Linked DNA regions of Homo sapiens: regions 1, 2, 3 and 4 are each linked to region 5. The links come from fine-mapping of genetic effects on gene expression. A gene starts in region 5. Each other region holds a variant in brackets. All regions are shown on one strand. Distances are from middle to middle.

Region 1 (5,000 bases), 120 kb after region 5:
GTGGGCTCCACCCAGTCCGAACTTCCTGGAGGCTTTGTTTATACTGTGAGGGGAAAACTGCCTACTCAAGCCTCCCTCCCCCACCAAGCTGGAGCATCCCAGGTCGACTTCAGACTGCTGTGCTGGCAAGGAGAATTTCAAGCCAGTGGATCTTAGCTTATGGGGCTCCATGGGCAGGGGATCTGATGAGCAAGACCACTCGGCTTCCTGGCTTCAGCCCCCTTTCCAGGAGAGTGAATGTTTCCGTCTCGCTGGTGTTCCAGGAACCACTGGGGTACGGAAAAAAAACTTCTGCAGCTAACTCAGTGTCTGCCCAAATGGCCACCCAGTTTTGTGCTTGAAACCCAGGGCCCTGGTGGTGTAGGCACCAGATGGAATCTCCTGTTCTTTGGGTTGCGAAGATAGTGGGAAAAACATAGTATCTGGGCCGGATAGCACCGTCCCTCGTGGCACAGTCCCTCAAGGCTTCCCTTGGCTAGGGGAGGGAGTTCCCTGACCTCTTGCACTTCCTGGGTGAGGAATGCCCCACCCTGCTTCTGCTTGCCCTCGGTGGGCTGTACCCACTGTCTAAGCAGCCCCAATGAAATGAGCTGGGTACCTCAGTTAGAAATGCAGAAATCACCCGCCTTCTGCATTGGTTTCACTGGTTGCTGCAGACTGGAACTGTTCCTATTCAGCCATCTTGCCCAGAATCCAGGAAGAAAACTTTAAAAGTTAAAGTCTCTTATAGGTTAGTTAAAGTTATGTCTTATATAAGATAGTTTCATCATGAATACTTCTCAGTTTCCAGTTTTGTTTCTTTGTCATGAAGTTCATTCTCTTCTCCCTTTTCCAGGAAGAATCATCTTCTTTGAACCCCCACAGTGGAAAGCTCCCCGCTCTGTAGGGGTACGTTTTATCCTAGGATTATCTGTCACAACTGAACAGGCAAAAGACTCCCCCAAAAATGCATTTTTCCGTGTCTGATTTTATCAGTCTGGAATAACCCCATGGGGGGAGAGGGTGAAAAAACTTGGTGCAGACAGTGTGGGATGAAGTTTGGCTTTCTATGTTCCAGCCCCTTCTGAATATTCCTCGGTAATGTGGAGGTTTAAATACGCCTGCTCATACTTCAGCAGATGGCTAGTGAATTGAACCACCTTCCTCATATATATATATATAAATATATATATATACACACACACACACGCACACATACATTTTTAATCTCAACAGTGTAATTCTAAGACAAAAGTCTATAGATGATTAGTGAACATTTAGAGTTGTGATAGAAATCCAATTTGAGCTACCACTAGAACTGATAATAACTAATGTTTATTAACTATATATATATATATATATATATATTTGTGTTGTGCTAAGGGCTTCACATATCTAGTCAAATTCTAATGACAATTTTATTAGTAGGTACTCTTATCATCCTTATTTTATATATACAAAAACTGAAGCACCAAAGGTTTATAGGAAACTTACTCAGGATGTGTGTTTAAGAGTCAGGATTTAAATCCAAGTAGCCTGATTCCAGAGCTGTCAGTTATAATGCCCACCCAGGAGCATTATGCCTTAGGTTGAGCATAATGTGGAGAATTTGACTCATAGGTTTCACGATAAATTGGAACAGCCAAACTATTGGGAAGGGCGGAGTAAAGGTGGACTTCAGGAACAAGTGGAACCAGGAATTCAAATAGCATTCTCTCTGTCTGTCTTTTTTCTCTACTTTTTTCTCAGTAGGTCTGCTTCTGCTCTCATCATAGATAAAGTTCCTCATGATAGGAATATGAACACTTGATGTTAATATTTCCATATTAATGAAATTAACCATCATTAATTTCCATATTATGTTAATATTTCTCTCATTGGAGAGACTGTTTCTTAGCTATGGTTATAAAAATCGGGAGAAATTTCTAGACAGATAACGATATCTGCCTAAGTCTGTGCCCCCTCCCAAAATATCCTACATATGATAGAGAACAAGAAGAAAAATTAAAATGCGTAAAAATGACACCCCCTGCATAACCAGAAAACCAAGGACACCCAAACTTCAAATTAACTAAGTTTTAAAAAAAAGAAGAATGAAATCTCATTGAGCTATCTCTCATACCTTGCCTCAAACCTTTGCTGTGAACAAGAACAGTTTAAAAAGCTGCATGGGAGAGAAAAGAGATGCCAAAGATTAAAGTGAAACTACTGCCACAGAAGTTCACCAGATGGGTGGAAGTACCGAAACAATTTCCAGTTTGGCTCACAAAGGCCCAACTATACACTGTTTATAAGAGACACACCTGAAACAAAATGATTCAGAGGTACTAAAAATCAGTGGGAAGGACTGCAGTTGCCTCACCTTGAGTCAGCTGTTCACTCCTGGGCCACTCAACTGTGGCCAACAGTGCAGAGTGCTTTTTATTTTTAGCTATTCATCTCGCAACTCCCTTCCCTTGCCATTCAGCTATGTCCAAGGTAGTGGACTCATTTTAGAATTTGG[G/T]AACTAAATGTTTAAAGCAATGTCTTAAAGAAGAGGGGTTCCACACTCAGAAGAGGGAGGTACTAGGTAGACAATATAAGTATGAAGGTAAACATTTGCTAGAAATTGTTTTTCAGTATTCTCTTTAATATTCTTATTAAATTGATTTTTGTTTTTGAGTAATTTGGGGCATGAGCAATGGTAGTATAGAAAAATTTATTACTAGGTAGTGAAACTAGAATAATGCTGTCTAATAGAAATATGAGAGCCATAAATGCAAGCCATGTAATTTTAAATTTTCTAGTTGCTACATTTAAAAAGTGAAAAATTAATTTTAATAATACATTTTATTTAACCCAACGCACCCCAATTATCATTTAAACATGTAATCAATACACAAAGTATAATGAGATATTTTCTGTTTTTTTTCCTTATTCTTCCAAACCCAGTTTGTATTTACACTTACAGCACATAGCAATTTAGACTAGCCTCATTTCAAGTGTCTAAAGTGATGGACAGCTCAGACCTAGAGAGAGGAACAGTCATTTAGTCATTTTAGCATAATAAATGAAAAATAATACTTGAATCCTAAAATGTGTTTTATTTCTACTTCCCATCGCAGTTAAAGTGTGCCCTATCTAATGCTTTTACTTTGTGTTTTTGTATGTTAATGATACCTATTTTAAATTGGGGCATGTTTATAGCTTGATCTATGGCACCCACAAGCAGTGATGGAGTGGAGAAAGATTGTTTTCTCACCTCCTTTAGATCTCTGTTTAAATATCCTTGTTATAGATGCCTTTTCTGAACATTTGAAACAAAATAGCAACCGCTACTGTTTCTCCTCAGCCTTCTGACAATTTCTGTGCCCTTTATATTGCTTTAGTTTTTTTCCCCATATTTCTTATTACAGCTGATATACCATTTATACTTTTAAAATTGTTTCTTTTTCTACCCCCCCCTTTCCCCTAAATACACCAGAATATGAACTTTGTTGAGGACAAGAACTTTGTGCTGTATTCACTGCTATGTTACCATATCCTAGAACAGTACTGCACATAGAAGATGCTTAGTATTTTCTGAGTGTATGAATGAATGAATTTAAGACCATATGGCATTCACTATTGGTGTATATAATGGAACTCCCATCATCATTCCCCTGAGTGGTCTCCCTTTGGTACTGGCCAACTCTGCCCTACCACACTGCTGTCAGTCAGCTTAAACCTCAGTTCTTCTAGCTAAGACCATGGCAGTAGTCTCATTGTGGTCTCACTGCCTCCAGCCTTCCCGTATAAGCTATTTGATTGCCAGATGAATTTTTTTTTTTTTTAAAAGCATCTCTGAACATGTTGATCCCTTGCTCAGAGTTTTCACTTCCTTCCAGTGGTTTATAGTTCTTCACACTTGCTTTTAGGAGTCTCTGAAATATGCTGTACTTATATCTTGGTCTGTTGCCAACTAGACAGTTTGCCTTTTATTTTTAAAATGCTTTCAGTGCTTTCTCCTCTTCTTTTCCTTTGTATCAACTACTTTTTGTTCCTAGTCACTTTTTTTCCTTTCCTGCCTTGACCAGAACCCCTGACTTAACTTTTGTTGCTTCCTTTACGTTTCTTTAGGGCACGTTAAGAACGTTAACTTTGAGCACTTCCTGATGGATTGATCATAGAAAGGCTGTGAAATATGAATAGACAATGAAATGTCATCAAAGCAAGACCCTTGGCATGTGTGCCAATGGTTAAATGCTCTGGAATGGAGCATTTGTGGCTGAGAGGGAAATGTTTATATCTGTTAAAGTGCAGGGACTGTCTAGAATAAGGCACTTTATTAATGAACATCCTTTGATAACCTATTCCTTTACTACCTTGTCTTTAAGTGGTGCCAATCAAGAAAGGTCTTTGCACAACTTTAAAATATACATGTTGTTTTGTAGCAAGTAAAAAGTGACCTAAATGCTTTCTAGCATATTGAAGCACCAACTTTTTATGTATTGAATTTAAAGCAGTGATTTACACTGCTAACACTGTAACATTTACAACATTTACAACATTACATTTACAACATTACAACATTTACAGGCTAACAGCAAAACATTTACAAGTTTCTATAGAGAACTTTAGGAAGTATTCTTTCTATTTTCTGGAAGAAATTGTGGATTATATTTTCCTTGAACGTTTGGTAGAATTCACTAGTGAAACCATCTGGGCTTGATGTTTTCTTTTGGAAGGTTATTAATTATTAATTCGACTTCTTTAGCTGATACAGGTCTGTTGGTATTATCTATTTCTCCTGTGTGAGTTTGTGTCTTTCAAGGAATTGGCCTGTTTCACCTAAGTTATCAAATTTGTGGGCATAGTGTTGTTCATTGTATTCCCTTGTTATCGTTTCAGTGTCCATGGAATTAGTAGTAATGATCTCTCCTTTATTTCTGATATTAGCAATTTGTGTCATCTTTCTTTTTTCTTGGTTTGCTTAGCTGGAAGTTTATCAGTTTTATTGATCTTTTCAAAGAACCATCTTTTGGTTTTATTGGTTCCTCCTA
Region 2 (5,000 bases), 140 kb after region 5:
ACTTTTAGTTTAGAGACATATGGGATCACCTCATTTCGAATAATGGGACCCTAGATTTCTTACCTTCTTCAGCATCTGTGGGTTCTTTTACTCTTAAAATAGTGTTCCTGTTCTTCTATTTCTTTTGGTTAATATTGCTTTTTATATTTTTATATTATTTCTAATTCTTAATAAGATTCTGCATGGGGCCTAGTAAATCATTGTGACTAACCACTTAGTTATTACTAGTGATTATAAGGAATACATTATATATGTTTATAGTTGAGCCATACTACCTTTTACAATTAATATATTGAAATATTTTAACTGAATTTAACATTCAGTTAAATGTTTTATTTAACTGAAAATGCTGCATACATAAAATGTCCTCTTGCTGGAAGTACAGATATAGATAGTGTATATGTTCCAGTATTTTTAATTAAGGAACACCTGTAGGTTGTTTTATTTGTTTGGGGTTCTGCTTACTTCCTCAGAAGGCTGGCCGTATTTATCTGTGGATCCTTTTCAGTACTGAGCAGAATACCTTGTACATTGGTTCTGAAAATGTACATGTCATTATCCATTTGAACCTCCGTATGGGGCCATCCTCATCAATATACACATGTGTTAATAGTTTCCTTCACTGTAAAACAAACAAACAAACAAAGAAGTTCCTTGCTTCCATATTCCCCCGTTAGTTATCACCTTATTCTCATTTCCCTTTCTCAGAAAAATTTCTTGAAATAGCGACGCTATGTGCATCTTCACTTTATCCCATCTCTTTTGTTTTTCAGTCTATTCCAATCTGGCATTTGTTCCCATCACCACATTACAATTACTTTTATCAACATCACTCATGAAATTTATATTCTGTATACTGGGACACTTCTCTACCCTCATCTTAATCAGCTGTTTGCCAGTTTTCTACTCAGTTCACGTCTCCCTGCTTCTTGAAACCTTCTTCCTCTGCTGCTTTGCAATGACACTGGTTGAGTCTGTTTGGACTGCCGTAACAAAATACCACAGTTAGAGTGACTTAAACAACAAGAATTTATTTTCTCACAGCTCTGGAGGCTAGAAGTCCATGATCAAGGTGTTTGCAAATTGGTTTCTTGGAGAGCTGTCTTCCTGGCTTGCAGATAGCCACCTCCTCACTATGTCTTCTCATGACCTTTCCTCAATGGATGGGCATTAACAGGGAGCAAGCAAGCTCTCTGGCTTCTCTTCTTATAAGGACACTAATCCTGTCAGATCAGGGCCTCACCCTTATGACCTCATTTAACCTTCATTACTTTCTTAGAAAGCCCATCTCCAAATACAATGGTACTGGGGTTTAGGGCTTCAACATAGGAGTTTTGTGGAGATACAAACATTTGGTCCATTAACAGACAGTCTCGTGACTTTCCTACCACCTCACTGGCCATTCTTCTGTCTCTTTGCTCAGCTTTTCTTCCACTGCTTGATCTCTAAAATTTGGAGTTCCACAGGCTCTATTCTAATCTTTATTATTTTTTTTTAATGCTACCCAGCCCACGTGGGGAGTCTCAGCCATTCCCATTGCTTCACTTATCATTTCTCTACAGGTTCTCCCAGATTTTAATCTGCACAGTAGGTCTCTTCCCTAAGTTTCAGACTCACAGTCAATGCACATCTCATCTGAACTCAAATTTAGTAAGTCTAAAATGGAACACTTAATTTCAAAATTCATATATGTGCTTCTTCCCCATCCTTCATTTTAGAAAATGGAAGAATCATTATCTGCAGTTTCTAAAATCATAAACCTGGACACTATTCTTGATTCCCTCATGTCTGTCATCACTGTTGTAAGCAAGTTTTTCTGATTCTGTCTTCAAGAGTCATCTTGAATTTTTCCATCTTCCTCCTTCTCCTTTGGACTTTGAAGCGCTTTCTCATCGATTGGATAGTGGGTAAAATATTACTTTTCTTGTCTCTTCAGCCTAAGTAGCAACTCTGAATATCCATTCCCACAGTCTTCCCTATTATATCAACTTGTTTTATTGTCTTCCTAGTATTCTCTCATCCAAAATTTTATGGCCTGTTTATTTGCTTACTTGTCTTTTGTCTCTTCCTTTGAGAATGTAATATTAACAGAACAAGGAAGGGTCTTGTTAACTTCACTCTTCACATGTCCATATTACCTAGAAAAGTGCCTGGTATGTAGTAGGTGTTCAAGACATAATTATTATAGAAGGAATGAACCTCTTTTGCTACTATTTTAGTTCATGCCAACATCATCTTTTGCCTGGACTATTACAGTAACCAAGTACCCCCATTTTTTCGAAGAGATCATTTAATTATTTTTTTATTATTTATTTATTTATTTATTTATTTATTTATTTTTTTTGAGATGGAGTCTCGCTGTCTCCCAGGCTGGAGTGCAGTGGCACGATCTCGGCTTACTGCAAGCTCTACCTCCCAGGTTCATGCCATTCTCCTGCCTCAGCCTCCCAAGTAGCTGGGACTACAGGCACCCGCCACCTTGCCCGGCTGTTTTTTTTGTATTTTTAATAGAGACGGGATTTCACCATGTTAGCCAGGATGGTCTCGATCTCCTGACCTCGTGATCCGCCTGCCTTGGCCTCCCAAAGTGCTGAGATTACAGGCATGAGCCACCGCGCCCAGCCCATTTAATTATTTTTTTTTCCCCTCTTTTTTCTCATTCCTCCAGTTCCTTACTTCCCACTTATCCCTTTGGAAATGCAAATATAACCCTTTGCCTTCCCTTCACCATACATTCCCTACAGGGCAAGTTCTTCTAACCATGGGCTCCAAGATTGATCTCTCTTCCAGAGTTAACAATTTACAAACCAAAGCATGCCCACTGTGGAACTCTCACCCACCAGGAGTTTTGCCTCAAGAGATAACAGTCAAAAAGTATGCCTGCTGCTCTCTCCCACCTGGTGAGTTTTTGCCCTAGTCCTGCCCACAAAGGCACCAGCAGTCACCAGCTCAACCAGTCAGTAGATAAGGCACTGAAGCTGGCATAAGGACCCCAATCCCCGGCTTCCTCCCCTGCATGC[A/G]ATTTCTCTTTAAAAGTGCCCACTTTCTGCTCCAAAAGCAAAGCAGTACACTTAAAGGCAGGCCACCTGTACTTCTTCCCCTAAGATAGCTTTGGAATAAATCACTTTCTTTATACGAGACCTTGCTCTTGTTAATTGGACTCTGCAAGCGGAGAGTGAGGAAACCTGCATTTCGGTTACATTACTAACTAATCAGGTCTCCCTTTCCTGCTCTTGCCTTCCTGCAATCTATTTCCATAGAGCAGCCAAAGTATCCTCTAACAGTTCATCTCACACTGTGCACTCCCCAGCTGGAAGCTTGTCTTTGGCTTTTCCATGCATGTCCTGGCCCCTCCAACCTCCTCTGTCTTCCATTTTACTGTGGACGTGTCAGCTGTCTACCAGCTCCTAGAACACGCCACACACTTTCTCCCACCTCTGAGTCATTTACTTTGCTGGTGCTCTTCCTGGATTGTTCACGATCTTCACATGACTGGCCCCTTCTCTTTGAAGGTTTTATGTCACAGTGTAAATGACACGTTTTTAGAGAGGCTTCTTCTATCTGAGTTGGGTTTTCCCTCCTTCATTGGCCCAGCACCAAGAAGAATTTCTTCACAGAACTATTGTCTATAATTGTTTTATATCTTTGTTTACTGTCTTTCCCATTTTTGGCTTCATGAGGAAGGACATTCTTACTCTTTTTTGTATTTTAATGTCTATCATAGTTCTGAACAATCAACACTTATTTGCCAAATCAGTGAATACACATGCTATAACATTTATGTTTTTCCTTAGGTGTCTGAAAATAGTTTGTCTTCAGGATTTTGTCTTCTAAGGATATGATAACAACAATGATTATTTAAGAAACTTGAATAACAAGATTAGTAATGTTTCTATAATATCTTCTTCTATAGTAAATCTAAAGTGAGGAGCTTGCTTTTTTATATTGTATTTTTCCAGAGACAGCTTCATGAGTCAGAGGTACCTCTCAATATATGACTCACATAAGACAGTGGATTTATACTGTCAGCTGCCTTTTTATACCTTCAGTCATCTAGGTCATTAGGCAGTTTGCATTCTTTTCTCTTGGTTATATAGGTATTAAAGAAACTTGCCCCTTATTATACATTAAAAAAGTGGTAAGCTCCTATTTTTTCTTCTAAGTATATGGATTGGAAAGACTTTTAAAAATGGGTGATCAGAGAAATGAAGGTCAGTTTTTTCCTAATTTTTAATTTTTATGAGTACATAGTTGGTACATATGTTTATGGGGTACATGAGATATTTTGATACAGACCTATAAGGCTTAATAATTACATCAGGGTAAATGGGGCATCTGTCGACTCAAATATTTATCATTTCTTTGTGTTATAAATATTCCAATTATACTTTTAGTTATTTTTTAAATGTACGATGAATTTTTAGTAACTGTAATCACTCTGTTGTGTTATCAAATACTAGATCTTATTCATTCTATCTAACTCTATTTTTGTAACTATTATCCATCCCTACACCCTACCCCCCCACTCCCCTTCCTAGCCTCAGTAACCATTCTTCTACTCTCCATCTCCATGAGTTAAATAGTTTTAATTTTTAGCTCCCACAGATGAGTGAGAACATGTGAAGTTTGTCTTTCTGTGCCTGGCTCATTTCACTTAGCATAATGTCCTCCAGTTCTATCCATGTTGCTGCAAATGACAGGAATTCATCATTTTTTTATGGACGAATAGTACTCTATTGTGTATATGTAGCACATTTTTCTTTATTCATTCATCTGCTGATGGACATTTAGGTTGCTTCCAAATCATAGATACTGTGAACAGTACTGTGATAAACAGGGGAGTGCAGATATCTCTTTGATATACTGATTTCCTTTCTTTGGGGTATATACCTAGCAGTGGGATTGCTGGATCATATGGTAGTTATATTTTTAGTTTTTTGAGGAATCCTCTTACTATTCTCCATATTGGCTATACTAATTTACATTCCCACCAACAGTGT
Region 3 (5,000 bases), 180 kb after region 5:
AATGGTGGTATGATCACATTAATAGTTTTGAAATGTCATACAACCTCTATGGTAGCCAAGTAGAGGATGAAATTGAAGGGAGTGAAATTGTAGGCCTGGAGACATATTGGAAGCTATTCCAATAATTGAGGCAAGAAATAGAGAGGGCCGAGACATAGCAGAGGCATGGGAGGAGAGAAGGGATTGGATCTGAGAGAGTCTGAAAAGGATGAATTGACTGATAGGATTTAGACCTGGCACTTACTTCCAGAAAGTTTCCCCAATGTCTGGCCAGGTGAAGGAGAGGAGTGGGATTGTGGGGTCATTGGGAATGGGGAGGAAAAGCAGGCTAGGAGGAAAAGATGCTCTGTTTGGGGTCTTCAGAGGCAGAGTGTTGAGGTCAAGAAGGCAGAGACGGCAGGACCATAGTGGTGCGGAAATGCCTAATGAGGCAAGTGCAGTCCTGTTTGCTTTAGAAAAAATTTGCTCAATGACCTTCTTTCTCTCAGAATCTGAAAAATATCCACTTTTAATCAAATAAGAAATATATCATTCAGAAAATGGCAACCACAAAAAGCTTCTCAGAGAATAAGGTGCAAGTGAATCTACTTAGAATACACAAGTATTCTCACTGGAGTACGATGTGATGATGAGAGGGGTGGGCCAGAGACTGGTCATTCTTGCCCATCAAACCTGTATCAACCTGAAGAAAGAGAGTCTGGCAAATGTCCAGGTGCCCATCAAGATGCAGACTAGGATCACCTCTTTTAAAGATGCCTTTGAACCCCTCTAGCTCCCTCTGCCCACGAAGGGGTGCAACTGGCCTTGCTGTCTCCCCTGGGCTTCAGATGTTGCTTGTCATACTAGTCTGTGTTTTCCCTCAGTACCCTTCATTGTTATGGTCTTTCCTAATAGACTGTTGGTTTTTTGAGAGCAGGAAGCATTGTATCCTCATTTTGCTCCCTGAAGCTTTTGGAGTGTGTGTCTGGTGTATCTAGCACAGAATGAAGTGTTCAGTAAATACAAGAAACTTATAGAAAGGGTAGTGAAGTGGAAAGAGCAATAACCAGGACAGAAGAAAAGGGACCTGGTACTAACCCTGCTACTATTAGTTGTTTAACCTGGAGCAAGCCAGTTTTTCTGGGCCATGGTATTCTGATAGGCAAAGGAAGAGATTTAGTGAGAATCTGGAAAGTCCATAAATGGTCCTTCAGAGGTCCCTGGATTTCTTGATATTAGATGCAGACTTTATATGTGTTTTTGTGTGTGTATGTGTGTATGTGTGTGTGTAGATAGGTGGGTTTAATTTTTTGAGTAAATGAGTGATAGCTTTCATCATACTCTCAAAGGGATCTATAACAAAATAATAACCACTGAATAAAACATGATATCTCTAGAATTTGTAAGATAGAGTTGTGGGGCCTGGGTATAGGCATTCAGCTAAAGGACTTGTCTGGAAATTGCTATGAACAAACACACCCTAGTTACACAGATTTTTGTGTTTATTTGGAGTAGAGAGGTGTGGCTTCTCTGAGCCCATCCTGTGTACTATCCTTTCTTAGAACTCTTTCAGTTCTATGTGAGGTCACACTCACATTTTGTTTTCTGAAGTACTTTACAAAGACCAAATCTGACTTTACCGATGATGATGAGGATGATGACAATGACAACAAAGGTGATGATGACGTTAGAAATAGCAGCAGAAGTATAGGACATTCTTCTATGTGCATATATCTGTCTGTCTGTCACCTCTTTAACGCTGAAAGTAAACTTGTTTGATAAGTGATGTTTTAATTGTAATTTCGTAGGTAAGGGAACTAAGGCACAGAGCCTTGATCATCTTGACTCCCGTCCTTACCTTGCTAGTAAGAGATGGAGCTGGTCTTTGAACCCAGAAAATCTGACTTCTGAGCCTGCACTTCTAATCAGCCCAGTATATGGCTTTTTTTTTAAAGGAAGTTCTTGTTCTCTGTAGTT[T/C]CACTTTTGAAGATTCAAAAAATAGTAAGTATAGAATACTTCTTAAATTTATGATTGTTACCAAGGACAGCACAAACTATAATTTGGATCCATTTAACCTATATAGATACTCTACTCTCTTGAACAATGGAAATGTATTTCCCATAGTTTACAGTCTTCCTGACATAGAAATGTTTTGTTGATCTTATCTGGCTGTACTGCTTTGCTTTGCCCATAGAGGAGGTGCTAAGGACATTTTTCAACAGCATCCCACAGATCAAAGCAACAAGCAGGTGCTTCAGGAAATCCCTAAGATGTGTTGCTGGAAGTGACACTAAGCTGTAGTGTATCCTAATGGGGGTAATTTACTGTGTGAAATTAGAGTTTCGAAGAAAATTATGATAATGAGTTCTGTTGATTTCCTGGGAGAGTTAAGGTGAAACATGTTGTTAGTCTGAAATTTACCATCTGGTCTGGTTTAGAATTAGACCTAATTGTCAGATAACCTGGTGTCTGGGATGCCTGGATAGTATCAGGTCTCTGGGGTGCCTCTAGCTTGCAGTTGACCTGGTCTACAGACTATGCTTCTGTCTGAATTTCTCCACCCAGCACTCATGCCCACACTCCCAGTTCCCTCTTCTGGGGCCCAAGTTTTTCTCCACAACCCCACAGGGCACTTGCTCTGATCCTTCAGAAACCAGGATGCAACATCTGTGCCTTGAGCCTCTGCTGCTAGATAGCAACCTAATGTTGTAGGGGTGTGATGCCGTGGACCCCTTCTTGAACCCCCAAGCTCGTCTTGCATTTGGGGCTCTAGCATGCAGCTGCCTGATTGCCCTTGCAGAGCCCACCTCCCTGTAAGTACCCTTTCCCTCGGAATTCCTTTTGAACCCAGGTTGTTGTTACTGAACCCGGCCTTTCCTTTTGGGTCTGGTATGGGTTAAGTGGTGAGATTTCAGAATAGAGAACTCAAGAAGATAAATCCATAATTAATTAGCAACTTTTTGGCAGACCTACATGTTGGTCTCATGGCTTCCTCTGGTTACTGTGGCTGTGCCTTTCTTAACTCAGGACCTTAAAGGTAGCCATAACATACTGCTCCTGCTTAGATGACTTGTTTTAATTACAAATAACATCAACAGCACTAATGTGCTAGAGAAGCAAAGAGTGGACATTTGCCCGAATGTCTCATGAAGAGAATAGTTTAAAATGGGTAGTTTTATCAGTGTACAATATCACCAGTCTGTTTTCAAAAGCTGTTTTATTTTGTGGTTTTTAAATTAACTAAGGGATGAAAAAAATAAAGAGCTAAAACAAAATAAAAATCATCATTGGTTGAAAATGTTTCATAGGGGAACATGTCAGTATGTTTGTTGGCTCTAGGTTTGAGTAAATAGACAACACTGTCTCATATTTAATGTTTAATTTTCACAATGGATTCTTCAACTATTCATTCTCCACTTGTGCCAGGTTGAGCCCTTTACATATCTGGACACCTATTATCCCTAATCTTTAAAACAATTTAGCAAGGTATTACTCTTTTATTTGTTTAAGCCAGAAATATTTTTGTGTTAAGTGGTTGCTGTGAGCCTGTCTGTGAACTAGGTGATGGAAATACAACAGTGAAGAATCACTTTGATTCTACTGCCCTTAAGAAATTTTCCGTTGTCAGATTGAAAGACCAATGAACAGATCACTGGCACGGCTTATGTTTTTATATACTCTTCAGGGGTGTCTAAATTTATGCAGATATTTTTCATATTGAAGCAATATTTATGCAAATATATTGAATATCATGCCTTTTGTCCTAGTCATCCCATTTAAAAATCTTTCCTATAGCAAAATCTGCACATAATTGAAAAGATCTTTGGCGAGAAAAATAATTGCAGATTTTGCAGAAAAATGTTGAAAAAGCTCATTGACAAGAGAATGGCTAAATCATTGCTGTTTATATACACTGAAATGTTACACAGCACTAAAATGAATAAAGTAGATGTATACATATGACATGACTCTGCTTTATTGTTAATGACAAAAGCATGCTGTAGAAAAATCTGTATAATAGGAATACATTACTTAATAAAGCAAAGGAAAAAAGAAAAACTCTGCCAGAGTCATACCAGATTTTTAGCTATGGTCCCATTTAGGCAGAAGAGAGAGGAGAGGTGTGAAGGGCATCTTTTATGTATTACTGTATTATTTCAGCCTGACAAAGTAAACATGTATTCTTTTGAAATATATATATATATATATTTGAGATAGGGTCTTGCTCTGTCACCCAGGCTGGAGTGCAGTGGCACTATCTCAGCTCACTGCAAGCCCCACCTCCCAGGTTCACACCATTCTCCTGCCTCAGCCTCCCAAGTAGCTGGGACTACAGGTGCCCGCCACCATGCCTGGCTAATTTTTTTTTTTTTTTTTTGTATTTTTAGTAGAGATAGGGTTTCACTGTGTTGGCCAGGATGGTCTCGATCTCCTGATCTCGTGATCTGCCCGCCTCAGCCTCCCAAAGTGCTGGGATTACAGGCGTGAGCCACCAGGCCTGGCCTGAAATATTTTTAAAAGCCAATAAATTTTCATTTTAAATGAGGTGATAGATGCTACGGTGGAGTTATGTCCGGGGTCCTATGGGGACACAAAGGGGACACAGACCATGGGCCAGAGAAGGCTCCGTGGAGGAGTGGGTGGCCTCACTGGGTTCAGGATGGTACATGTCCACCATGTAGAAGACACAGAGAGAACAAGGGCTTCTTGCTTGGAAGCATCCTGGAGGCTTTTCTGGTAGGCGGCCTTGGGGCTGTCCACCTCCAGAGCCTTAACAGCTAGCCCAGGTCATCCTGGGTTCTTCTTCCCTTAGCCCTCACAGAGCATCAGCTACTATTCCTGAACACTCCTCCCATTTCCACTACTTTCCTGTCTACTGCAGCCATCTTGGTTCCAGTGCCTCACCTCTCACTTGGGTGGTTGAGACAGCCCCCTCAGTTGGTCTCCTGGCCCCTTCTCTGTTCCCTATGTCCTCTACCCCAGTCTGCCCTTCACTTTGCTTTAAAAAGGCAGTTTTGACC
Region 4 (6,604 bases), 400 kb after region 5:
GTTAACGAACTGCAAACCTACTGTCATTGCTTGTCATTTCTTGACAGTGTTAAGTCCAAAAGTGCTGGGCATTGCCATCGCTCGGTATGACTTCTGTGCAAGAGATATGAGAGAGTTGTCCTTGTTGAAAGGAGATGTGGTGAAGATTTACACAAAGATGAGTGCAAATGGCTGGTGGAGAGGAGAAGTAAATGGCAGGGTAAGTTGGCCCTCTCGATGTGCTGGTGCATGTGAAAGAAGGGGACTGAGCAGTTGTTTGCACCCATTGTGGCACCAGGGAGAAGCCTCTATACTGTATTACAGCTTTCAGCCCACAGGCCTCTGCCCTCTGGAAACTGGTGCTGTGTTTTGCTGATACCAGGGACTCGCTGAAAATATTTGAAATGAATATGATAGTGACATAAATAAAATTCACCTGGGCAAGTGGGACAGCTTGCTGCTTGGAAAAGAGTCGAGGAGCATTTCAGTTCTTTTTAGACCCTGAGCCATAGAGCTAAACTTTATGTGTATTGCAAAATATCTATAAGAACTGCTGATGTAAATTGGAAAGAATGGGACATAGTACCTCTGTCTTTTCATCCTGTTCTACAGCAGAAATAGGAATCATTATGCAGCAGAGCCCCCCTGTATTATACTTAATTTACATATTTATTTGTGTGCTAGTGGATTAGAACACTGTTTATTTTATTCCTCCATTTCGATCATTTACTCTATTAGGCTTCTAAGAGCAGTTAAACCAATCTTCTCACCTACAATGGACATAAAACCCCAGTTTAATTGGGGTGTTATGAAAACAAAATACTCTGTTTGTAGAATCCTTTGAAGTGTCAGATACAAAGTCATGTTGCTGTGTTGGTTGCTTTTCTTTTTTAGGTGGGCTGGTTTCCATCCACATATGTGGAAGAGGATGAATAAATTCAAATCCCGTGTTGCACCCTGCACCAAAAATTTCAGAGAAGGGATAAATAGAAGCCTGCACAGCATCGTGAATTAACTGAAGTGTTTAAAAAGCTGCATTTCTGGCTGTTCAACATCCTCCCTCCTTAGCCCCTCCTAAGTCTTAATGCTGAGATTTCTAAAGATGCTGGTACTGACAGATTAATGGCTTGCCTAGAGCTGTGCAAGAAACAGCCTGCCAGTCTGTCATTGTCAGGGACCAGGGCAAAACCAAGAGCTGTTCTTCCCAGAAGAGCCCTGCAAACACATTGGTTCGTGCTTCCCTTTACTTCTTCTGGTCAGATACCATGAATGCCAGTCATCAGTAAATCTTAATACACTTTTGCTTTATTCTCACATGCCATTCACCAGATTATTTGATGGTACAAAGAAGCAGAAGTGTAATTTTCCTTTTCCCAGCATGACGAAAAATTGGAGTTCTGCCATTTGAGCAGCTTACTGGAAAGATCCAGCCTTACTTGTCTTAAATTGTCCAACAAGGTGACTCATTGCCCGGCAAACACTTTTACCCTCAGATGTTACTCATGATATTATAAAATATGAGGCCAGTGCTCAGGTTTGCATCATAAGTGAGCTATCCCTGAAGGGTTTTAATTACTTATTTGGTGTCCTGATTATATTTGCAAACTTCTTTATAAAAGGTGAAAAAAGCACACAAAAGAGAGGGTGTCTTCATATTAAACCTTCACAACCTTCATGATTTCATAGGATTATTTTGGAAATATAGCACTTGACTTTATGAAAGGATCTGGGCTAGGTATATTAAGGGTAGTTGCCAATAACCTGAAGAAGCTGGCATTGTTTACAGAAACAGATCAAGGGCTATAATTTATGTCATTTTATAGCAGCAGTATCTATTAATACATGCCTTTTCCTCCCATCCACCTCCCCCGCACACACACAAAGATGACCTGGGACATGATTTTTTTATTCCCACATTTTCTTGGAGCACAAACAACTTTGTTGAGGATTTTGGAAGGAAAGCACAACTGGGTCCTTTATTCATTTCTGGGACAGAAAGAGGGTCAGTGGACTTTTGTGGGCCTCCAGCTTCTCTCAGAGTCTCCCCCTCTGCAGCCCATCCTGGGAGTGTATTAACTGGAGGGAAGATGGGTCTTGCAGTACATTTGTTTTGCCCAGCCATCACTCTTTTTTGTGAGGAGCCTAAATACATTCTTCCTGGGGTCCAGAGTCCCCATTCAAGGCAGTCAAGTTAAGACACTAACTTGGCCCTTTCCTGATGGAAATATTTCCTCCATAGCAGAAGTTGTGTTCTGACAAGACTGAGAGAGTTACATGTTGGGAAAAAAAAGAAGCATTAACTTAGTAGAACTGAACCAGGAGCATTAAGTTCTGAAATTTTGAATCATCTCTGAAATGAAGCAGGTGTAGCCTGCCCTCTCATCAATCCGTCTGGGTGCCAGAACTCAAGGTTCAGTGGACACATCCCCCTGTTAGAGACCCTCATGGGCTAGGACTTTTCATCTAGGATAGATTCAAGACCTTTACCTCAGAATTATGTAAACTGTGATTGTGTTTTAGAAAAATTATTATTTGCTAAAACCATTTAAGTCTTTGTATATGTGTAAATGATCACAAAAATGTATTTTATAAAATGTTCTGTACAATAAAGTTACACCTCAAAGTGTACTCTTGGAATGGATTCTTTCCTGTAAAGTCTTATCTGCGACTCTGTCTCGGGAATGTTTTGTCTGTTGCCGTCAGCCGAACTTTGTTATGGAGGGAGCAGCCTCACACAAGCAGAAACACTCCTGTGGATGGTATTGTAGCATGTATTGTTTATTTTAGTCAATAGACCCTCTCCTTATAAATGGTGTTTAGTCTTCCTGTTGCATTTCATGGGCCTGGGGGTTTCCTAGCAGAGGATATTGGAGCCCCTTTTTGTGACATTACCAATTACATCTTTGTCCACGTTTAATACTTTGTTTTGGAAAATTTAAATGCTGCAGATTTGTGTAGAGTTCTAATACCAAAGACAGAAGTAAATGTTTTCCATATACTTTGTCTTGCCTGTATGCAGCCCT[C/T]GTGTAATACGGTGAATTAGAGTGGTATTTCACTTTGTATTATTTTGTAAATATGTCAATATAATAAATAGTGACTAAATTGATTTCTAAGAGTTGGAGTCTTTTTATTGAATGATCCCTGTATTAGTCAGGGTTCCCCTGAAAATGGATGGCACTGGATTGTTGGGCCTGTACCAGGCCATCGCCAGCAGTCCAGAGTGAACAGAAGCAGTGTATGTGTGGAGGTCACCACCCCCCCGCCCGCCAGCCCCGTGGACGCTATGCGTCTAGTAGGAGGGCCGCTGCGGTGAGTCTTGAAGCCCAGGGCTGGGCCCGGGCAGAGCCGCCGCAGGTGCAGATGTTGGTGGTAGTAGCACATATTCTAAAGAGAACTTCAAAGGCCGAAGTGGAGAAGGGTTCCATGTGAACAGCAGTTGGACATGGGTCATTCGGTCCTGAGAAATAGGTGAGCGCCATTCTGAATGGACAGGCGATGGCCTCTGTTGCCCTCAGCCAATCGAAAGGGAGTCCGGTTCAGATCCCGAATCCGGAGTGGCGGAGATGGACACTGCCAAGCGTCCAGCACAGTAATGCGAAGGATCCCAGAGAAGCCAATGGAAGCCCCGGGGAGAGTTCTTTTCTCCTTGTGAAGGGCAGGGCGCCCTGGAATTGGGTTCGCCTGGAGAGAGGGGTCCGCGCCTTGGAAAGCGTCGCGCTTCCAGCGGCATCTGGTGAGCTCTGGAGGGCCCTTGAAAGTGCGGGGGAGAGGGTGTAAATCTCGCGCCCGGCTGTACCCATATCCACAGCATTCCTCCCTCTGGAACTAAGACCTCTAGGCCAGCACAACAGAATGTCGCGGGAACAGGAAGCAAAAATTTTGCTAGTGGATCACTTAGGGTGATGGTGAGTGGTGCCACTTCCACTTCCACCCCCTGATTCCTGGACCCTTGAATCCTGGCCATGGGAGAAACAGTACCATACATTGGACACTGATTCAGAGCATACACGGCCTTCTAAAGAATTTTGTCCCATCCCTGCAAAGTATTGTCACCTAGTTGGCATTGTAATTGTGACTTCAAAAGGCCATTCCACCTTTCTATCAATTCAGCTGCTTCAGGATGATGGTGAATTCCATGAGCATGAGCCCACTGCTACACTTCTTTAGCCATAAAGTGAGTGCCTTGGACAGAGGCAATGCTGTGTGGAATAGCATGATTGTGGATAAGGCATTCTGTGAGTCCACGGATGGTAGTCTTGGCAGAAGCATTGCATACAAAATAGGCAAACCCATATCTGGAGTAATTGTCTATTCCAGTGAGGACAAACTTCTGCCTTTTCCATGATGGAAGAGGTCCAATATAATCAACCTGCCACCAGGTAGCTAGCTGCCTGATCACCCCAAGGAATGGTGCCATATCGAGGGCTCAGTGTTGGTCTCTGCTGCTGGCAAATTGGGCACTCAACACTGGCTGTAGCCAGGTCAGCCTTGGTGAGTGGAAGTCCATGTTGCTGAGCCCATGTGTAACCTCCAACCCTGCCACCATGGCCACTTTGTTGATGGGCCCATTGAGCGATGACAGGAGTGACTGGAGAAGGAGGCTGAGTGGTGTCCACAGAATGGGTCATACTAGCCAGTTGATTATTAAAATCCTCCTCTGCTGAGGTCACCCATTGGTGAGCACTCACATGGGATACAAATATCTTCACAGTTTTTGGCCACTCAGGCCCATCCACATACCTCTTCCCCAGATTTCTTTGTCACCAATTTTCCAATCATGCTTCTTCCAGGTCCCTGACCACCCAGCCAAACCATTGGCTACAGCCCACGTATCAGTATATAATCACACAACCAGGTGCACTGATTGAAGTTCTGCCCACTGGAAATATTTCCCTTCAGCACTGTCCTTCAGGGATGTCTTGGAAAGGGGCTGTAGTGCTGCAGCTGTCCACTTTGGGTGATGCCTGCATATCATGAAGAACCATCTGTGAACCAGGCCCTAGTCTTCTCTCCTCTGTCAATTCATCATAGAGAACTCCTTATGCGGCCATTGGTGCAGGCTAGGGAAGAGAAAGCAGGGTGGCAGGAGTAGAGACCATGGGCGTTTGAGCCACTTCCTCATGTAACTTACTTGGCCTTCAAGACCTGCTCGAGCCCGATCACGTATATACCACTTTCATTTGATGATGGAATGCTGCTGTGCATGACCCACTTTATGGCTAGATGGGTCAGAAAGCACCCAGTTCATGATAGGCAATTCAGGTGGCATGGTGACTTGATGACCCATAGTCAAATGTTCAGTTTCCACCAAAGCCCAGTAGCAATCCAAGAGCTGTCTCTCAAAAGGAGAGTAGTTATCTGCAGAAGATGGCAGGGTCTTGCTCCAAAATCCTGGAGGCCTCCACTGTGATTCACCTATGGGGGTCTGCCGAAGGCTCCAAACAGCATCCCTATCTGCCACTGACACCTCAAGCACGATTGGATCTGCTGGGTCATATGGCCCAAGTGGCAGAGCAGCTCGTACAGCAGCCTGGACCTGTTGCAGAGCCTTCTGTTCTGGACCCCACTCAAAACTGGCAGCCTTTCAGGTCACTTGATAATTGGGCAGGACTAATATACCCAAATGAGGAATGTGTTGCCTCCAAAAGCCAAATAGGCCCACTAGGCATTGTGCCTCTTTCTTGGTTGTAGGAGGGGCCAAATGCAGCAACTTACCCTTTACCTTAGAAGGACTATCTTGACAGGCCCCACAGTCCCATAACACACATACACCAGCCCCATAATTAACATGGGGATTAAGCCCTAATTTTGTTTAAGTTTAGCTCAGGATTGCTGCCTAAGTTATGAACAGTGAACTACAAGGTAAACTCAATAGTTGCCAATAACATGTATTGGCATGCTTACCATGTGCCATGCTCTGTTCTAAGTGCTTTATTTGCACCAACTTACAACAACCCCCAAAGGTAGAACCCCATAATATTTTCATTTGCACATGAGGAAACTGAGGTACATCAAGAGGTTGCAACTTTCCCAAAGTCACACAGCTGCTAAGTGTCAGAGCTGAATTCTGACTTGGGTGGTCTGGCTCCAGAGTCCGTATAACCACTACCCTATCCTGCCACACTTTGTAGGGCAAGAGAGAGATTTCGTACATTTTTAAACTTACATAACCGAGAAGAAACTATACGATACTAAACAGTGGTTTGAACAATGAAAGGTTAACACAGAATTCAGAAATATGCCACTATTCCTGCCACCTAAAAGAAAACCCAAAAAAGATATTGCCTAGAGAGATTAGTATCAGATTGAATTTTCGTTTCTACTTTGATTCACTCTTGCACTAGAAAATGGCTGCTAATCCAGAGAGGCTTGGAGTCAAGTTTCCCTTGGTGGAGCAGGCCAGCTGATAATCCACAGTGATGGAGTCTGTCTTAGGGAGAGGGTGGAATCACTTCATTCCTTCTAAGGACCAGGAAAGGCCATGGTGGTAGCTTCTGCTTGACTTCACCATCACAACCTTGCTACAAACACAAAATTCCTCTTATTTTCATTACGATACAGTGGGTTATACAGCCCTGAATCCATTATTTGAGGAGCCAACTCCGTTGGTATCTTTATCACTTCT
Region 5 (6,435 bases):
GTAAGACTCTGGCTCAAAAAAAAAAAAAAAAAAAAAAAAAGAAAAAAGCAGATCTTTTTTCATGTGACTCTTATGCCTGTTACAAGTAATGCTGGCAAATCCTTCCTGATCTTTTCACCACCAGAAAGACAGGATAGAAAGGCAGAGAGGGATGGAGGGAGAGCAAGAGGGTTAACATAGCTTGTTCATTTATTTACTCACCAAACTAATATTTATTGTTTGTCATGTGACAGGCACCAAGGTTGGTTCTGGGAATTTGAAGATGAATGAGTTACCACCCTTGCCTTCAAGGTGTTTCAGTCTAGCAGGGAGAACGATGTTTAAACCAGTAATTAAGCTTGATACAGCAATTATTTTAATGCTGAGCCACAGCTCTGAACAGAAGGGGCGCAGATGTGGAGACACAAGCTCATCCTTTTATTGAGTTCCCTAATAAAGAGCAAGATGCTTAACTCTGTTGATCTCTAGCTTCTTCATTAAAATGGGTGGGAGAGCATCTTCTCACTTGCAGACAGTGCATGTAAAGTGCCCAGAAGAGTGCTTGACACATAGTGGGCATTCAGCAAATGGTAGAGTGTGGATGTACTACAGGGGCTATGAAGGACTCAAGGGCAGTAGGACCATAGGAGGGGTCCTGAAGTCACACGTCAGATATGCAAGAAAGAACTTCTTGCACACCGCAAGAACACTAGGTACCAGGATTAGCAAGGAGTTGCCACTGATGAGTTGGTCCCTATTTCCCAACTTGCCTTCACTAGGTGGAACATTTCCTTTAAGGTTGCAAAGGGAGGTCAGTGCGATAGCTCACACCTGTAATCCCTGCACTTTCAGAGACCAAGGTGGGCGGATCACTTGAGTTCAGGAGTTCGAGACCAGCCTGGCCAACATGGTGAAACCCCCATCTCTACTAAAAATACAAAAATTAGCCGGGTGTGATGGTGCATGCCTGTAGTCCCAGCTACTCGGGAGGCTGAGGCAGGAGAATCGCTTGAACCCAGCAGGTGGAGGTTGCAGTGAGCGGAGATCGTGCCACTGCACTCCAGCCTGGGTGACAGGGCCCTGTTCCCTGCACTGGACCCCACTCCCTCTCCCTTGTCCTCCCCAGCCTCTGCCTCCTGCTCTCACTTACTGCTCTGATGACCAGCCAGGGCAGGCCTGGAGGCCGAGGTCAGTGGTTTGTTGGGACAAGGGCTGGTTCCCAAAAAGCCCCACAAAAATTAACCAGGTGTGGTGGTTTGTGCCTGTAGTCCCAGCTACTCAGGAGGCTGAGGCCGGAGAATAGCTTGAACCCGGGAGGCGGATGTTGAAGTGAGTCGAGATCTGCTGCACTCCAGCCTGGCTGACAGAGTGAGACTCTGTCTCAAAAAAAAAAAAAAAAAAATTGTAAAGGGAAAAGACTGTAATTTTTTCCTTTAGTAAGGATAACTCAGGTGAGAAGCCCATTGCATTTTTATTGCACCAATTTCTGACACTTAAATGTCTTTCACGAGTCACCTATTGGCACTTAGCTCCTTGTTTACGTGAAGAATCCCGTGTCTCCACTAAACTCCTTCCCTTCTAGGCCTTCCATATATTTTCCTGTTGCCTTTCTATCAACTCTGTGGTTTACTATATTTGAGAAGCATTATGTTTTGAAGTCATATATTATATACAGAGAAGTGAAATAGAATATTTGGTCGTTGTTGCCACTTGTTAATGAAAAGTGGCTACTATTGGGTAATATTTATTGAGCTCTAATTATCAGGCACCACACATTCTATGCATTGTATCAGTGCTTCTTGGCTTTTGATGGAAATACATGGGATATGGAGATCTTAAAATTCAGGTTCTGGTTCATTCAGTATGAGAGTAGAGGCCAAACGTCTACAGTGCTGACAAGTTCAAGGGTGATGCTGCTGTCCACAGGCTGCATTTTGAATAGCAAGACATTGTACCATTTGATCCTGACAACAACCCTATTAGTTAGAAATTACTTCTTATGGCCAGGCACGGCGGCTAACGCCTGTAATCCTAGCATTTTGGGAGGCCGAGGCGGGCGGATCACGAGGTCAGAAGATCTAGACCATTCTGGCTAACACGGTGAAACCCTGTCTGTACTAAAAATACAAAAAAAATTAGCCGGGCGTGGCGGCCGGCGCCTGTAGTCCTAGCTACTTGGGAGGCTGAGGTAGGAGAATGGCGTGAACCCGGGAAGTGGAGCTTGCAGTGAGCTGAGATCGCGCCACTGCACTCCAGCCTGAGCGACAGAGCGAGACTCCGTCCACCCCCCACAAAAAAAAAAAAAAATTTCTTATTTCGTATCTATGGAAACTGAACTGTAGAGAATTTATCCAAGGTCATGTTGCTAGAAAGCAGTACAGCTCGGGCTCTAAATCCAGATTTGCGTCCTGGGATAGTGTATATAATGTGGATTTTGGAAATATTCTCCAACATCCAAAGGTGATCTGATGCTACCTGAAAAAAATTCATAGTTTTAGTTTAAATTTTGACCCGTTTAATGAAATTTCTTTTTAATTTCTCTTTATGAAAGACTGTGTTAAATGGTGATTCAAATGTGTTGGATTTTGCTTCTAAAGGTATGTAGAGATTAGTATGATTTATTTGCCAAAATTATGGCCTAGAAAATGTCGTGCTATTGATGGAATCCGCATTGAACACAAGAGGAAATTGCTAGGGAAGGATGCGTGTGAGGAAAGGAAATCCTCAGGCTGATTTATTGTTCAGCGCTGAGTGTAAACAGTGTGCTATCCTTGTCACAGCCAAACGAAAAAGGACGCAATCACTATCCTGAACAGATCATTCTTTTAAAAATAATATTTTGGCCTGCTTATAAAGCATGGTTCGTAATAAAAAATTTGGGCTACAGAAATATAATACAATTAAATTATCCAAACTCCCATCTTTTTGTTTGTTTGTTTGTTTGTTTTTTGAGACAGAGTCTGGCTCTGTCGTCCAGGCTGGAGTGCAGTGGCTGGATCTCAGCTCACCGCAACCTCCGCCTCATGGGTTCAAGCGATTCTCCTACCTCAGCCTCCCGAGCAGCTGGGACTACAGGTGCGTGCCACCACGCCCGGCCAATTTTTTGTATTTTTAGTAGAGACGGGTTTTCACCGTGTTAGCCAGGATGGTCTCGATCTCCTGACCTCGTGATCCGCCCGCCTCGGCCTCCCAAAGTGCTGGGATTACAGGCGTGAGCCACCGCGCCCGGCCTATTTTCTAATTTTAAGTGAATGCATCTCAAAAGGGTGACGAAGGACCACATTCCTATCGAACAGCAATAATTCACTGTGGCAATATCTTGCCACAAATAATTTAAACATTAATTGTGGTTTTGAGGGGCAGTGTGCAGTGGGAGTAAAAGGGGTAGGGTTTAGAGTCTCCAAAAGATTTACTTAAGAAACACGAATGCACTGCTTGTGCACTGCGCAAAAGTTCTGGGGTCAAGTTCCAACTTTCACTAAGGATCCCAGAACAGCCCGGCAGGAGCTGCCCAGGGCTAACGCGCTTTGCTCTCAAACCCGGCCGCCAGTCGCCGACGCATGCGCAGTCTAGCACCGTGGCACAGGCCTTTCTCAAGCAGGTTTTTGTGGGGTCAGCAAAAGGGCCAGAACAGCAACGGCAAACAGTTCCGAGCCTGACAGTGCAGGGGCAAACCAGCTCCAAGTGAAAATCACCTCGCGAGGAAATAGGCTCAGGGATCGGGGCGGTTTCCGCAGGCGTCTCCACACACGCACTCTCACTCACTTTGAGGGTGCCAAAACACCACTAGGGGCAACTAGGAGGAATAGGCTGAGGAATCAGCTATAGAGAATGGAGGGGATAGAGCTGCAAGGGGCGAGGGGGCGACGATCTCTAAAACTTTCAGCGCCGTGCTCTACTGATGCTCTAGGCACTTTTTTCATTGCTCTGGGGAGTCTGGGTGCCCCAATTAATCCGTCGCTCCTTTGAGCATTTGTTGTTTAGGGGGTCCTGGGGGACCCCATCGTATTACAGTATTCAGCCACACTCCCCGCAAAGCCGGGAAGCCGCCCCGAGAGAAGACCCCAGGACGCCGGGGGCTGCGTGAGCCCCGCAAGGCTGCAGGCGGGGGCGCGGGATCCCCTTTCTGGCCGCCGCCCCCCTCCGCCGGCCCCTCCCCCGCGCCCCGCCCTCGGCCACAGACCCCAGCCCCGGCCGCCGGCGCGCTCCCACCCGCGCGTCTGGGGACTTGCGGACCGCAGCGAGACCGGCCGGCGTGCTGGGCATGCTCAGTGGCGGGCCGGGCGCTGGAGTCGGAAGCCTGTGCGCGGCAGCCGCCGCCGAGCCGGCCGGGGCGCACGGAGAGCGCGCGGGACTCGCTGCAGCGGCGGCCGGGTCGCGGCGCACCCGGGCCGGGACCGGAGCCGAGCCTAGCGCGGCGCCCGCGACCCGTCAGCCGCGGCTCCTGCTCCCTCGATCCCGCGCGGGGAAAGGGCCGGCGGCTGTTGGCGTCGGCGGGGCGCGGAGGAACCGCGGCGGCGGCGGCGGCGGCCGCATCCTTGCCGCCCGCCCCGGCCCAGCCGCGTCCCGGAGCCGTCGGGCATGGAGCCGTGGAAGCAGTGCGCGCAGTGGCTCATCCATTGCAAGGTGCTGCCCACCAACCACCGGGTGACCTGGGACTCGGCTCAGGTGTTCGACCTTGCGCAGACCCTCCGCGATGGAGTCCTGCTCTGCCAGCTGCTTAACAACCTCCGGGCGCACTCCATCAACCTGAAGGAGATCAACCTGAGGCCGCAGATGTCCCAGGTGAGGAGGCCGGCACGGGCGCCCCGCCTCCAGCCGGCAGCTCCCATTAATCATGCGGCTAATTTCTTTGTGTAAATGCAAACGTCTAGGTGCGCTGAGCTTGCCCTGCTTCCCAGCCTTCTGCTTTGGGACCACTTCGGCACCACTTTGGCGTTTCCTACCTTGGCTTGAAATGGTTTAGCTCCTCAAGCTGAATGCGAAAGCTTTGCGTCCGGAGATGGTGTGAGGATTTCGTAAAGGCTTTCTGTGAGGCGGGAAAGAAATAAGTTGTCTTAGGGTGCCCTTCACCTACTCTGCGTGTGTGTGGCGCGACAAAGGGAATTTGATCAAGCTCTTCTATAATAACGAAGGGGAGGGACGAAACGAGGTGATGGGGTAATTTGCCTTTAGTCTCTTCTTTTGCTTTGCGTCTTGTACTCATGTTTTCCTAAAAGAGGAACCATGACATACATGAGGACTCGAGGAAGTGAAGGGCGTTTGGTCCCGTTATCTGTCCAGGAGTGACATTGGTCAAAGGGAAGAACAGGGAGCAGAACCCGGAGGCCGCCCCCAGGGCCCCTGAGCTGGTGGCCAGCCGGCAAGCTCCCGTTTACAGCTCTTCCTAAGCCATGTGAGAAGGAGCGAGTCCAGCCTCTCTCAGCAGCGACAGGAAATGAGAAGTTTCACTAGAGATTCCGCTTTCCTTCCTGCAGTGCCCTGCTCAGGTGCTGTGGTGCCGGTCGGCTCCTGGGGCTGGAGCTGCCTCTTTGAGGGTTAAGCCAGACACCTCTGGAAGGTTGGGTGCACCCTAGAGTCAGCTCAAAAGTCACAGTTCAGTGGAAGAGTAGTTTATTTGTCCTGTCGGAAAATTTTTGTACAGAAGGATGTTAAACTCGGTTCAGAGCCTCTTTCTCTTTCAGAATGTTAAAACAAAACAAAAAACCAAACTGCTTTCAACTTAAAAGGGAGAGGACAGAGCCCTCTCCCTGACACATTTCAGCACTAATCCTCTATGACGCAGAGCCTCAGCTACTTAGCAACCAGAGCAGCGCCTTTTAAGAAGGAACGGACTTTATATGATTTAATAAGTATGTATTTAAAGTTAGAGCACACACAGTCATCTGTGATTCTTGGTGTCAGTGTTTCATCAGGGTCCCCTGCACTTCAGATTCTGCATTCCTTGCCTGTTTGCCTTCAACCTGCTGGTGGGCAGTCCCTAAGAAAGAACAGGCATGGAAGTGGGGAGAGCCATACGTATTTAAAAGTGAGGTAAATTATTTTATACCCCCATAAACATGCATGGTGATTGCTACCTCTCGGTACCCCTTCAGAGTTGTCTCAACTCTGGAAATTCCTTTGAGGGGTTTGGCAGACTTTTCTATTATGGTGGGAGCTGCAGTTAGCTACTCTCACACATCCCCATTTTCCACTTTGCCTGTAGCCTCAGGAGGCAGCGTGGGTCAGGATGCCTTGGCCCACCAGTAGGGAGTACAGTACTGTGCACATTTCCTGGAACTTGTTTCCTGGAACTCTCAGCAGTTGCTCTCAATAATCACGTTTTCTGGACAGCTGAAGACCTTTTTAAACCTCGAAGCCTTTATTTGAATGCTAACAATGGATGAGAATCGTTTTGAATGTGTTTCACTCTTCTCCTCTTATGTTAGATGTAATTTAATCTTTCTGATGACCAAA

Direction of the effects. Positions count from the first base shown, and alleles are read on the strand shown. Sizes are in standard deviations (SD) of each study's normalised expression. Not every link is listed here.
With allele C in place of T in region 4, the expression in NK cells of the gene that starts at base 4,250 in region 5 is higher (large effect, 1.3 SD a copy in Gilchrist 2021).

Evidence for each region. PIP is the estimated chance that this variant, and not a neighbour inherited with it, causes the effect.
Region 1: its variant is fine-mapped to the expression of VAV3 in whole blood (INTERVAL, PIP 0.95).
Region 2: its variant is fine-mapped to the expression of VAV3 in whole blood (TOPMed, PIP above 0.99).
Region 3: its variant is fine-mapped to the expression of VAV3 in blood mononuclear cells (TOPMed, PIP 0.95).
Region 4: its variant is fine-mapped to the expression of VAV3 in NK cells (Gilchrist 2021, PIP 0.95). The same link has a PIP of 0.9 or more in monocytes, monocytes after LPS, monocytes after interferon gamma and monocytes after triphosphate RNA.

What each region holds. Positions count from the first base shown.
Region 1 is chr1:107,839,713-107,844,712 of GRCh38, reverse strand. The region is part of intron 2 of VAV3 (vav guanine nucleotide exchange factor 3); the gene reads left to right. Among named protein-coding and RNA genes, the nearest start is that of MIR7852, 55 kb to the left of the region's middle. The variant G/T (reference allele first, on the strand shown) is at 2,483.
Region 2 is chr1:107,819,997-107,824,996 of GRCh38, reverse strand. The region is part of intron 2 of VAV3 (vav guanine nucleotide exchange factor 3); the gene reads left to right. Among named protein-coding and RNA genes, the nearest start is that of MIR7852, 75 kb to the left of the region's middle. The variant A/G (reference allele first, on the strand shown) is at 3,021.
Region 3 is chr1:107,783,250-107,788,249 of GRCh38, reverse strand. All of the region lies in intron 2 of VAV3 (vav guanine nucleotide exchange factor 3), which reads left to right. Among named protein-coding and RNA genes, the nearest start is that of MIR7852, 110 kb to the left of the region's middle. The variant T/C (reference allele first, on the strand shown) is at 1,957.
Region 4 is chr1:107,567,642-107,574,245 of GRCh38, reverse strand. It overlaps VAV3 (vav guanine nucleotide exchange factor 3), which reads left to right. Exons shown (of 27, transcript NM_006113.5): 26 at 48-199; 27 at 874-3,085. The coding sequence ends at 915. Among named protein-coding and RNA genes, the nearest start is that of MIR7852, 330 kb to the left of the region's middle. The variant C/T (reference allele first, on the strand shown) is at 3,003.
Region 5 is chr1:107,962,995-107,969,429 of GRCh38, reverse strand. VAV3 (vav guanine nucleotide exchange factor 3) reads left to right here and starts at 4,250. Exons shown (of 27, transcript NM_006113.5): 1 at 4,250-4,764. The coding sequence starts at 4,561. It overlaps VAV3-AS1 (VAV3 antisense RNA 1), which reads right to left and starts at 4,987. Exons shown (of 3, transcript NR_046653.1): 1 at 4,926-4,987. RefSeq lists enhancers at 3,464-3,533, 3,469-3,763, 5,110-5,239.